Linked DNA regions of Homo sapiens: region 1 is linked to region 2. Evidence: fine-mapped expression QTL. A gene starts in region 2. The other region holds a variant in brackets. All regions are shown on one strand. Distances are between the middles of the regions. Region 1 overlaps LINC01215 (long intergenic non-protein coding RNA 1215). Region 2 holds the start of LINC01215 (long intergenic non-protein coding RNA 1215).

The links. PIP is the estimated chance that this variant, and not a neighbour inherited with it, causes the effect. A credible set is the group of variants that fine-mapping cannot tell apart.
Region 1: its variant is the best candidate, but not a certain one, in a credible set for the expression of LINC01215 in whole blood (INTERVAL, PIP 0.69).

What each region holds. Positions count from the first base shown.
Region 1 is chr3:108,134,992-108,140,375 of GRCh38, forward strand. LINC01215 (long intergenic non-protein coding RNA 1215) reads left to right here. Exons shown (of 2, transcript NR_110030.1): 2 at 1,323-3,619. Among named protein-coding and RNA genes, the nearest start is that of LINC01215, 13 kb to the left of the region's middle. RefSeq lists an enhancer at 1,582-1,721. The variant A/C (reference allele first, on the strand shown) is at 2,958.
Region 2 is chr3:108,122,170-108,127,553 of GRCh38, forward strand. It overlaps LINC01215 (long intergenic non-protein coding RNA 1215), which reads left to right and starts at 2,895. Exons shown (of 2, transcript NR_110030.1): 1 at 2,895-2,973. LOC105374031 (a long non-coding RNA gene) reads left to right here. Exons shown (of 8, transcript XR_007095997.1): 8 at 1-977. RefSeq lists enhancers at 2,078-2,337, 2,132-2,632, 2,418-2,467, 2,538-2,677, 2,958-3,007 and 2 more.

The DNA.
Region 1 (5,384 bases), 13 kb after region 2:
CAGGTAGGCTCAGTCATTTGACCAATGACAAACAACTAGAATATGGAGCATGAATTTGAAGCATCAGAGTCTGTACCCTTTTCTCTGAATATTTTGGGAGATAATTGGTACAAAGTAAATAAAAATCAATATTGTCATTATTGTCTACTTAGATAACAATGCAGTGTCTTCATTCATAATGGATTGCAGTTCCCCACTCAGGAAGAGGACATTTTTTTTAAAACTACATGATACAACTGAGAGCTTGGAAGCTATCCATGCATAAGTTTTAAAACCCAGCAGCTTCATGGTTTCCTCCTTCTGTTGGCCTGGCCAGTGGACACAGTGGTCACGTTCCTGGCATGGAGATGTCATTCATGGTAGGTGTTCTTGAATTGGAGCCTAAGGCTCCAGGACTTTTGTGGGTTCCTCCAGAATCCTACATCCTTATACACTCCCACGGGGTGCCTGCCCAGGTGAGTGGCATGCTTCATGGTATCCTTTCAGACTCTATCACTCCTACTTCTCCAACCCTGACTTACAATATGACCTGGGGAAGGATTAGAATGTTGGTATATTTTAATTTGCTCCTATGCCAAATCACAGTGCTTATATTTGCAACTCTGAGAATTGATGGGGACAATACATAGATTTAGAATTCACATGTGTGAGCACCATGAAGTACTTTGAACTTCACTAAATGGGGAAAATACAAGACACTACATTTAGAAATTGTTTAGGAGCAGCAAATGGAGAGAAGCAACATTTTTGCTTTAAAAAAAAACAACATCACAACCCCTTGATTATGTGCAGCACACAATTTAACAGGTGTGTGATTTATTCATTTATTCACAGACTCATGGACCAACCATTCCATCACAGCACTATTGTCTGTGAAGCAAAACACATTTACAGCAAACTGTATCAGCTCCTCAGAGAGACTGAATTAACCCATCTAAAAATCCTTTGCTTCCGATTGAAAAAGAGGGTTAATATCATCCAAATGATGAACATAAATAAACTTTACCTCAGTAAAGTTCTTTCCATCTTTGGATTTCTGGGTCATCTCTAACCAGTGCTTGATATGAAAGGGGGAAAAATAAAACTTGTGTATTATTTTTAGTGGATAAATGGAATATAATTGTTTCTCCATGTGTATCTAGAATTATGGCCTTCTTGGGGAAAGTACTACAGCCCCTCCCTTCCCTGCTCACTCATCTCTTTTCTTGGGAGAAAGATGGTTTTTCTGATTGGTGAGACTGGGGAAAACTTGATACCCACTCTGCCAGGTTTCTTTACCTGACAAAGTTAAGTGTTCATGAGTCATTTCTCTTTTTCTCTAGGTCTCTCAGACCCAAGTGTTACCAGTGAAGGGTGTCCAGGTTCTTGGCGCTTTGAACAAAGAATTGGACAAAACTCACAAACAAAGCAAGAAAAGAAAGAAGCAACAAAAGCAGAGATGTATTGAAAATGAAAACACACTCCACAGGGTGGGAGCAGGCCGAGCAAGCAGCTCAAGGGCCCAGTTACAGAACTTTCTGGGGTTTAAATACCCTTTAGAAGTTTCCATTGGTTACTTGGTGTACACCCTATGTATATGAAGTAGTGGCCTGTGATCAGTCTGATTGGTTGGAAGGGACCAATCAGAATGCAAACGTCTGATTAGTTGTGGAAAGTGACCAATTAGAGGCTGAAGTGAAGTTACAAAGTAATACTCCCACGCAAATGAAGACTTGGCCCACAACCAACCTGATTGGTTGTGAGAGGGGACCAATCAGAGGGACTTTCAGTTTTTCACCTGCAATGCAGAAAAAGGGTGGCAGGTGAGGGGTGTTGCAAAGGGAGTAGCCTCTGGTCCTTTTGTTACTTGGGCACTTGGGCGTGGAAAGTGGGGGTTTTCCTTTTGATTTAGTTCTAGGAAGTCAGCGTGAATTGGCCTTACATTCCCTGCCTCCAGACCCTATTCTCCTGCCTCACAAGTGCTCCTAGGAGCTGTACATGCCTGTCTTTGTCCCCATGTAGTCAGCTCGTTACAGGTGGGTCCTGCTGGGTCTTTCGTTCTTGCTTCTCTGCTTCAAGATGGCTAATAAGTCCTGGTCCAGTGAGTCCCCAGTGCAGACATAGAGCAGAAGGGAAGTGGGTCCAGTTGCATTTCCTGCAGTTTAATAAAGAACCCTGTGCTCTCTGGCCCATTACCTAAAGCTGATATTGTGCTTGGAACGTGTAGTGTTATCCAATCCAGCTTTACCACTGCTAAAGCTGATACCACGCTTTGATCCTCTGCTTGCTCATTTTGCCAAGTTCTTAACTGCGTGGAACTGGAAGGTGAGGGCTGGATGATTGATTTTTCACCCTGCCCCCAAACTCCAACAACCGAAACCAAGGGTTCTTGAAGAGAGAGGGGCAGGGCAGCAACAGGGAGACTGAAACTTGGGGTGGGGGGGGGGCGGGGGGAGGGGGGCGGACGGAATGTTTTTGAAGTGTGTGTTTGCCTAAGGTGTGTGTAGAAAGGTAGCTACTTTTCAGTCTCTGCCTGCCTTTAATCCATTACAATGTCCTAATTAAAAACATTTAAAAAGCTACATTGGAAAATGATCCCTGAGGCTAGAATGCTGTTGGCACAGTGAAAAAGACGCAATCAATAAGTAAACAGGCAATGTCAGCCCGGAGAGCTTTCAGAACAACATGCCTACTCGGGGGAAAAAAAATTACAAGTCGCTTTAGCCTATTTAAATATTTTCCAAGATCTTTGTTAAATTTCAGGTAATAATATTTCTTCCTTTGAACAAGCGTTGTATGTTTGCCTTTGACTGAGAATGGCCTAGGCTAGAGACCATTTGGTATTCAACTTGTGACTATTTTAGTATGGGGCTGGACCCCAAAAATTCATGCTCAATGAAATGATTTTCACTTACTGAGATGAATTTACTTTTTGCTTCCTTCAGCAATTCATCAATCTAATGGAAGAAAGAGTAGCT[A/C]TCATCATAATGAGAATAGACTTCTACGAGTATGAGTCAATGTCAATACTTTATTTAATAATGCAAATTCTATTACTATATATTTGGTCTCAATCCAAATTTGCTTTAAATTGAGTTTCCTTGCCATTGCACACTCCTATCTTTCTGAACACACACCACCCCACACACACACCATACACACTTGTTTCATTGCGCTTCATTTTATTGCACTTCTCGAAGAATGTGTTTTTTACAAATTGAAGATTTGTGGCAACTTTTCATCGAGTGAGTCTATTGGCATCATTTTTGCAAGAGCATATGCTCACTTCCTGCCTCTGTGACAGCATTTTTTAGCAATAACATATTTTTAATGAAGGTATGTACATTGTTTTTTAGACATAATGCTATTGCACACTTGACTAAAATGTAGCCTAAGTATAATTTTTATATGCCATGGGAAACTAAAAAAAGTGACTTACTTTATTGTAATATTTGCTTTATTACTTTGGTCTGGAACTGCCTCACACTATCTCTGAAGTATGCATGTATAGCTTTTCATAACACAGATATCACATTTGACCAGATCCTATTGTTACTGAACAATGTTGATGCTAACATTGATGATATCAATCACTATTACTGGAATCATTATCAACATATCAATAAATATTTTTAGAACATTTTGAAATTGTCAGCTGGGTTTTGGTTAAATACTTCTTGTCTGATATATTATATCCCAAAACAATAACAGTAGCTGAAAATACCAGAGAAGATATACTTTTTAAAGTAACATATTGTCATAACGTATAAGTATCAAAATTTCATACTGCAGCATGACTGACATAAAGAACACTTTGTTGTTGTTGTTGTTGTTTTGTTTGTTTGTTTGTTTTGAGATGGAGTCTCGCTCTGTCACCAAGGCTGGAGTGCAGTGGCACAATCTGGCTCACTGCAACCTCCACCTCTCTGGTTCAAGCAATTCCCCTGCCTCAGCCTCCAGAGTAGCTGGGATTACAGGCGCATGCCACCACGCCTGCCTAACTTTTCTGTATTTTTAGTAGAGATGGGGTTTCACCATGTTGGCCAGACTGGGCTCGAACTCCTGACCTCAGGCAATCCGCCCATTTTGGCCTCCCAAAGTGCTAGGATTACAAGTGTGAGGCACCACGCCCAGCCACAGAACACTTTTAAACCACTGAACTGATAAAGGGGCTATAAAACTCTTCTATTTCATTCTTTTTTTTTTTGAGACAGAGTCTTGCTCTGTCATCCAGGCTGGAGTGCAGGGTGGCAATCTCAGCTCACTGCAACCTCTGTATTCCAGGTTCAAGCAATACTTGTGCCTCAGCCTCCTGAGTAGCTGGGATTACAGGTGTATGCCACCAAGCTCAGCTAATTTTTGTTCTTTTAGTAGAGACGGAGGTTTTGCCATGTTGGCCAGGCTGGTCTCGAACTCCAGACCTCAAGTAATCTGCCTGCCTTGGCCTCGTAAGTGCTGGGATTTCAGGCATGAGTGACTGCACCTGGTCTATTTCATTCTTTATAAGCAGAAAACTCTAAATACTTCTAGGATAGGTGGTTCTGAGCAGTAGGCATCTATGTATTTAAGAATATTATGGAATCTTCTGGTTTCTCCAATCCTGTCCACCTATCTTCATTAGGATGTCCTGGGCGTCTCATGTGTTAGCAGTGCCGTTGACCCTTGAACAACACAGGTTTCAACTGCACTGGTCCACTTATACATGGGTTTTCTTTTGCCTCTGCTATTCCTGCTAAACAAACCCCCTCCTCTTCCGCCTACTCAACATGAAGATGATGAGAATGAAGACCTTGATGACTGATCCACTTCCACTTAATGAATAATAACTATATTTGTTGTAATTTTCTTAATAACATTCTTTTTCTAGCTTACTTCATTGTAAGAACACAGTATATAATACATATAATATACAGAATATGTGTTAACTGACTGTTAATGTTATTGGCAAGGCTTTGGGCCATCAGTGGGGTATTAGTAGTTAAGTTCTTGAGGATCAAAAGTTATACTTGGATTTTCAACTGCATGAGGGGTTGGTGCCCCTAACCTCCACATTGTTCAAGGGTCAACTGTAATTTCCCAGCTCCTGTTTCTCTGGTTTCTGACCTGCTACTGACCTGCTTCCAGCTTGGCTTTGTAGTCTCCTACTTCATATCCTCCTTTATTCCTTGAACCAGGCCTTTGACTTTGGGATCCCTTCAAGAACACTTGGCTCCTTCCCTCCTGGCTACACATACACATTGTTAGGAGGGATAAGCACCCTAGCAGGCTCTAGATGCAGCTGCTGTCCTAGTTTCTCTTGTGGGTGGATTTGGGACAGCAGGGATTCAGACCATAATGTGGTTGTTCCTCATCCTTCTTTACCTAACTATTAATCATTGGATTTCTTCAAGGCTTAGTCCTAGGGAAGC
Region 2 (5,384 bases):
TCCTAATCATATTTCCCTGTCACCTCTCAGTGCTGATTTACTTTCTCCTCCCATTCTACATGCTGCAGAACTAATTGCCTGCCTAATTGCCAAAACGAATTGCTGTGACATTCATTGTTCATCTGCTCCTTTCTCCGGCTTGAGCTCAGGCAGGTGGCTCCCATGAAGGCAAGGGTGGAATTATTCCTGCTTTAGGGCCAGGATGCTTCAGAGTGATGGCCCAACAATTATCTTCCTCATGGAGGCGGACCAAGGAATCACCTTCCTCATTGAGCAGGGGACAATAATTCTTGGCAGGGGTTCCCCTTCTTCTGCTGTAAGATTGGGTAGCTTTGACAGGTTGTGAGTCAGTTAAATTGTACTTTTCAGGGAGTTCCTCTCTCCCATTTGGAGATTAGGATTAGATTTGTTGGTTAAGAAACTGACCGAGAGAGGAGAGACAGCTCCTTGCTGGCCACATAGCTCATTCATGGTGAAGTTGAATCTGGGGCTCAGATATCCCAATTCATAGCCCAGAATGATTTCTACTGCACCACACCACAACTGTTGCAGTTGCACTAATTACGGTTTTATATTTCCTTATAAACTTTTATTAAACCCCTATCAAATAGTATGTCCTCATTGGTAGCAAGAATAATAAATATTTATTGAGTTGTTATGAATATTAAGCCTACTTTTTTTTCATGTAATCCTGAAAAAAGGCAACATGACAGAGATGCTCTCAGTATCCTTATTTTATATCAGGGAAAGTGGAGGCAGAGGGAGGTTAATAACTTGCCCAGGTCTGACACCAGATCCCATCCTCTTACCCCCACAAGCCCATGTGCAGATTCCTCCTGACAGCTTCTGGATTCTGATACACGAAAGAACTTATGAAGATGACTTGAAGGCTGGAGCTGGCGCAACATGAAACTAATCAACCAGATTATGCAAATTATTATGTAAACTCCTATTATTGAGCCAGGATTCATGACAGCCCCTTTTTTCCAACGCTGCTGAGATAAAAGCAAATGGATTGCAACACTAGCTTGGGATGAATTCAGGGAGCTTGGAAAGAATTCCTGGGATTTTCTGGGCAGTGGAAAAGACAGTGGGTTGGGAGTCAAGAACCTGAAGTTTAGTTCCGGATCTGGCATTAGGTAGCTGCATGGCCCTGGGAGGACCTATGTGCCTCAGTTTCTTCAACTGTGAAACGAGATAAGACTCCATGCTCTGGAAGACCCCTGCCATTCTAGGCATCTCGGATGGCATGTCCAAGATGGAAGCACACAATGGCAGAGGCTTGTAGCGACCTTCAGGACAGCTTTCCAGTAGCTGTAAATAAAAGTCTTATTGTTTGGTTCTTGGTCTTTCCCCCCTCTCAGTGACAGGAAGAATAATAAAAGCAATGGCACTATTGTGTGAAATAAGTGTTTTCTCATCCAAAAGAAAACATGACATATACAATAGCAAACCATTTGCAAGCTGAAAAAGTAATTAATTGTATAATTCACTGAACATGATAGGAAAAGTGAATTATGATAAAGGAGAAGGACTGAGAGTTAACAAATGAAAATTTTATTTAAAAGTTTTAAAATTTTGTTTTTTTTAAAAAAGGAGAGCATTGAAAGGTGATTAATCTACAGAAACAAAGAACTATTTCAAACACATTTAAAAAGGCACAATTAGAAGAATACCGCAAAAATAAAAAGAAAAATTCAGTTTGATCTGAGGGGGAAAAGAAAAAGCTGTTTTCATGAAAAACAGATTTTGAAGTACTTTTGTCATCAGCTTCCTTTCAATTCTTCTGGTTAATTTCATGAAGGCTGTGCGACCTTTCAACTTCCAAATGTTTGCAGGAGGGAAGGGTGGTAACGTGTGAGTGGAAAAACAATTAATTTTCAAGGTATGGGATTTTATAGTAGAGACTTCCTTAGCAGGATGGACCGTGACAGGGTGTTAGTGATGGAGACCTTAGGAGGAGAGGGCAGAAGATATGGGTTTGAGGTCCTGATGTACTCTGCCTGCTGTGTGATCTTGGACAAGTTCCGACCCCTCTCAGGGGTTCAACATCTTCCTACCTACATGAAGTGATGGGATCAAACACCTCTGTGGCCCTCTCTAGTCTATATGTTTGCATTTCTAACTGTAGAGCATGATAAAAAAATAAATCAGAAGTCAGTGATCTTTAGGTTACTAGTCAGGATGAAACTCAAAAGATCTATTTTTAAAATTATGAGTATTGGGTGTGGTGAAAATATTCATATTTGGGGTCAGAGAGTTTTTCTAATAGAATCAATTCTAGAGCATTCAGACTTGCTCTCACCCCAAAGAGGAAGTGAATGAAAGCTCTTCTTTCTCCTCTGCTGCTTTCTTTGTCCATGGGAGTATGCAAATTTTTCTGGCAACACAGAAGACTGAACACAGGAAGCCTGAACCCCGTGAAGCCATAAGGCTTAGCATGGGTGTGGAGGGTGATCAACCCCTCATCTGTCATTCAGAACTCCATGCTGCAACACAGAGGGGAAAAAAAACCTTCTGCTCCCTGTTTCAACCTCAAGGGCAGAGAACACAGGCCGAGTTGCTGTTCTTGTCTCACAATCTGGAGGCCAGAAGTCTGAAATCAAGGTGTCGGCAGGATTGGCTCCTTCTGGGAGCTGCGAGGGAAGTATCTGTTCCAGGCCTCTCTCCTTGGCTTACAGATGGCTGTTGATATGGTTTGGCTGTGTCCTCACCCAAACCCCATCTTGAATTGTAGTTCCCATAATCTCCACGTGTCATGGAAGGGACCCGGGGGAGGTAATTGAATCATGGGGGCAGTTACCTTCACGCTGTTCTCGTGAAAGTGAGTGAGTTCTCAGGAGATCTGATAAGGGGACTTTCCTCATTTTACTCACTCAGTTCTCTTCCTGCCACCACTTGAAGAAGGACGTGTTTGCTTCCCCTTCTGCCGTGATTCTAAGTTTCCTGAGGCCTCCCCAGCCATGCTGAACTGTGAGTTAATTAAACCTCTTGCCTTTATAAATTACCCAGTCTTGGGTATGTCCTTATAGCAGCATGAGAATGGAAATACAGCCATCTTCTCCATGTGTCTCTTTACATTGTCTTCCCTCTGTAAGCGTTCGTTTCTGTTATAAGACACTAGTCTTATTGGATTAGAGACTGTAATGACCTCATTTAAATTTGATTACCTCAGTAAACACACTATCTCCAAATAAGGTCACATTCTGAAATATTCAGGGTTAGGACTCCAGTAATATCTTTTTGTGGGGAGACACACTTCAATCCATAACATACTATAAGAGAAGGGAGCGCTTACCACTGTCCATTACCTGGAACCAGTTCAGACAACCATCATCTTTCTACATGCGATGGAGAAAACAGTTCACCTGGGCATTTTTGCTATGACAGGAGGAAACGTCAATATCAAACCATTGGAGAAGGTAGCTGAGTCATTCATTTGTGGCAGCAACCATCTTTCCTTCCCGCACCCCCTGGCTAGGCTGCTCCATGTTGGGAGGTGGTGTGTTCAGTACAGCCACAGTGAGCTAAGTGAGGGCTTCAGCTGCAGGCTGGAGTGACCCAGGGAGGAACTGCCGCCTATCAAAAGGAAACACCTGCCACAGAAGGTTCACTGAAGCCTGAGAAAATAAACGTCAAGAGCTCTGGGCTGTGCCACCACCAGTCTCCACCACTATTCTGAGGCAGAATGCACCTATTGGCTCACAATGCTGTGAAAGAAAACAAGAAAGTCGTGATGGTGAGCGCTGCCCTGCAGAGATAATGAGCCACTAGAGTAGTTCTGAGGCAGGAGCCAGAGGAGCTGTGACACAGAGGCAGTCAGGGAGTGGGACTGGGGTCACAGGAGGGGCTGGACCCAGTGGTCTAGTGCCTCATCTCATTCCAGATATGTGACCTAAGATCTGCATGTGTGTGCCTGTGCATGTGTGTGCCTATGTGTATGTGGATATGTGGCAACATATATGTGCATGCATGTAAGTGAGTACACATGCATGTGCATGTGGTGGGGTGTGGGTGACTGGATAGAGGGAGCATGGGGAAAGGGAGGGAAAAGAGGGTTAAAACCGTGACAGGATAATAAGCATCTGAAATACTTAACTACAACAAAATGTTCTGAGGCTTTGTACAGCCTTATTTTCCAAACTGCAGGTTGTGGCTCAGCAGTCAGCTGGGAAATCAATTTACCCATGCAGAGATTCTTAACCTGGGTCTGTGGACACTGCCCTTTCCCCACAAGAGGCCCAAGGATAGAATTGTATTTCAATATCATTGATTTCCTTTGTAAGCCTAAGAGTTTTGCTTTATGCATTTAAAAACACTACAAGAAAGGATCCATAGGCTTCATCACATGGGGTAGAAATGGCACGTGCACACATGCATACACACACACACATACACACAAACAGATACACACACACACACAAACACATATACACACACACACAAGGTTAAAAATCTCTAGGTCAAAACCAGCATTTTAAAAAGTTATTAAGATAACTAGATTATAAAGAAATTAAAAAATTTGAGCTATGCATGTAATGAGGGTACTGTTTTGTGAAACTGGTTTTAGATATACAAATACTTGTGTATATAAAATATACATATGTATATGTGTGTACATATTTATGCACACACATTTATTTATTTGTTTATTTTGTGATGGAGTCTCGTTCTGTCACCCAGGCTGGAGTGCAGTGGCATGATCTCAGCTCACTGCAACCTGTCTCCCGGGTTCAAGCAATTCTCCTGCCTCAGCCTCCTAAGTAGCTGGAACTACAGGCATGCCACCATACCCAGCTAATTTTTGTATTTTTAGTAGAGACGGGGTTTCACCATGTTGGCCAGGATGGTCTCGATCTCCTGACCTTGTGATCTGCCCGCCTCAGCCTCCCAAAGTGCTGGGATTACAGGTGTGAGCCACCCTGCCTGGCCATTTATTTTTAACTGTAGGGCATAGGGCAAAAAATTGATAGCTAGTGTTCAATAGCCTACTGGACATTAGGGTAAAAGATTTTTTTAAAAAATTTTTAAAAATTATGAGTGAGGAATGTAGTGGGCCATTTGTGTTTCAGAGTGGAGGGCTCTGCTATTAGGCAGACATTTGACTTTTCACTCGGCACATCCACATTCCAGCCAGTCTCCCAGTGAATGGTGATAAGCTGGCCCTGATCATGCCTGTATGGCTACACCCCTCTCTGCCTTGTTGAGGCCTGAGTTAATTTGAAGTGTTGCAGAGACATGTGTTGATTCCTGTGGCTACAAGGCTCCCGGAAGTGTCAGAGGCAGAGGTATTGTTTCCTGGGAGGGGTGTCTTCCTGTGTACCGCTGGTGTACCACTGGTGTATGCCTGCCCAGAAGTTTGTTCTTTCACACCCACAGGGCCA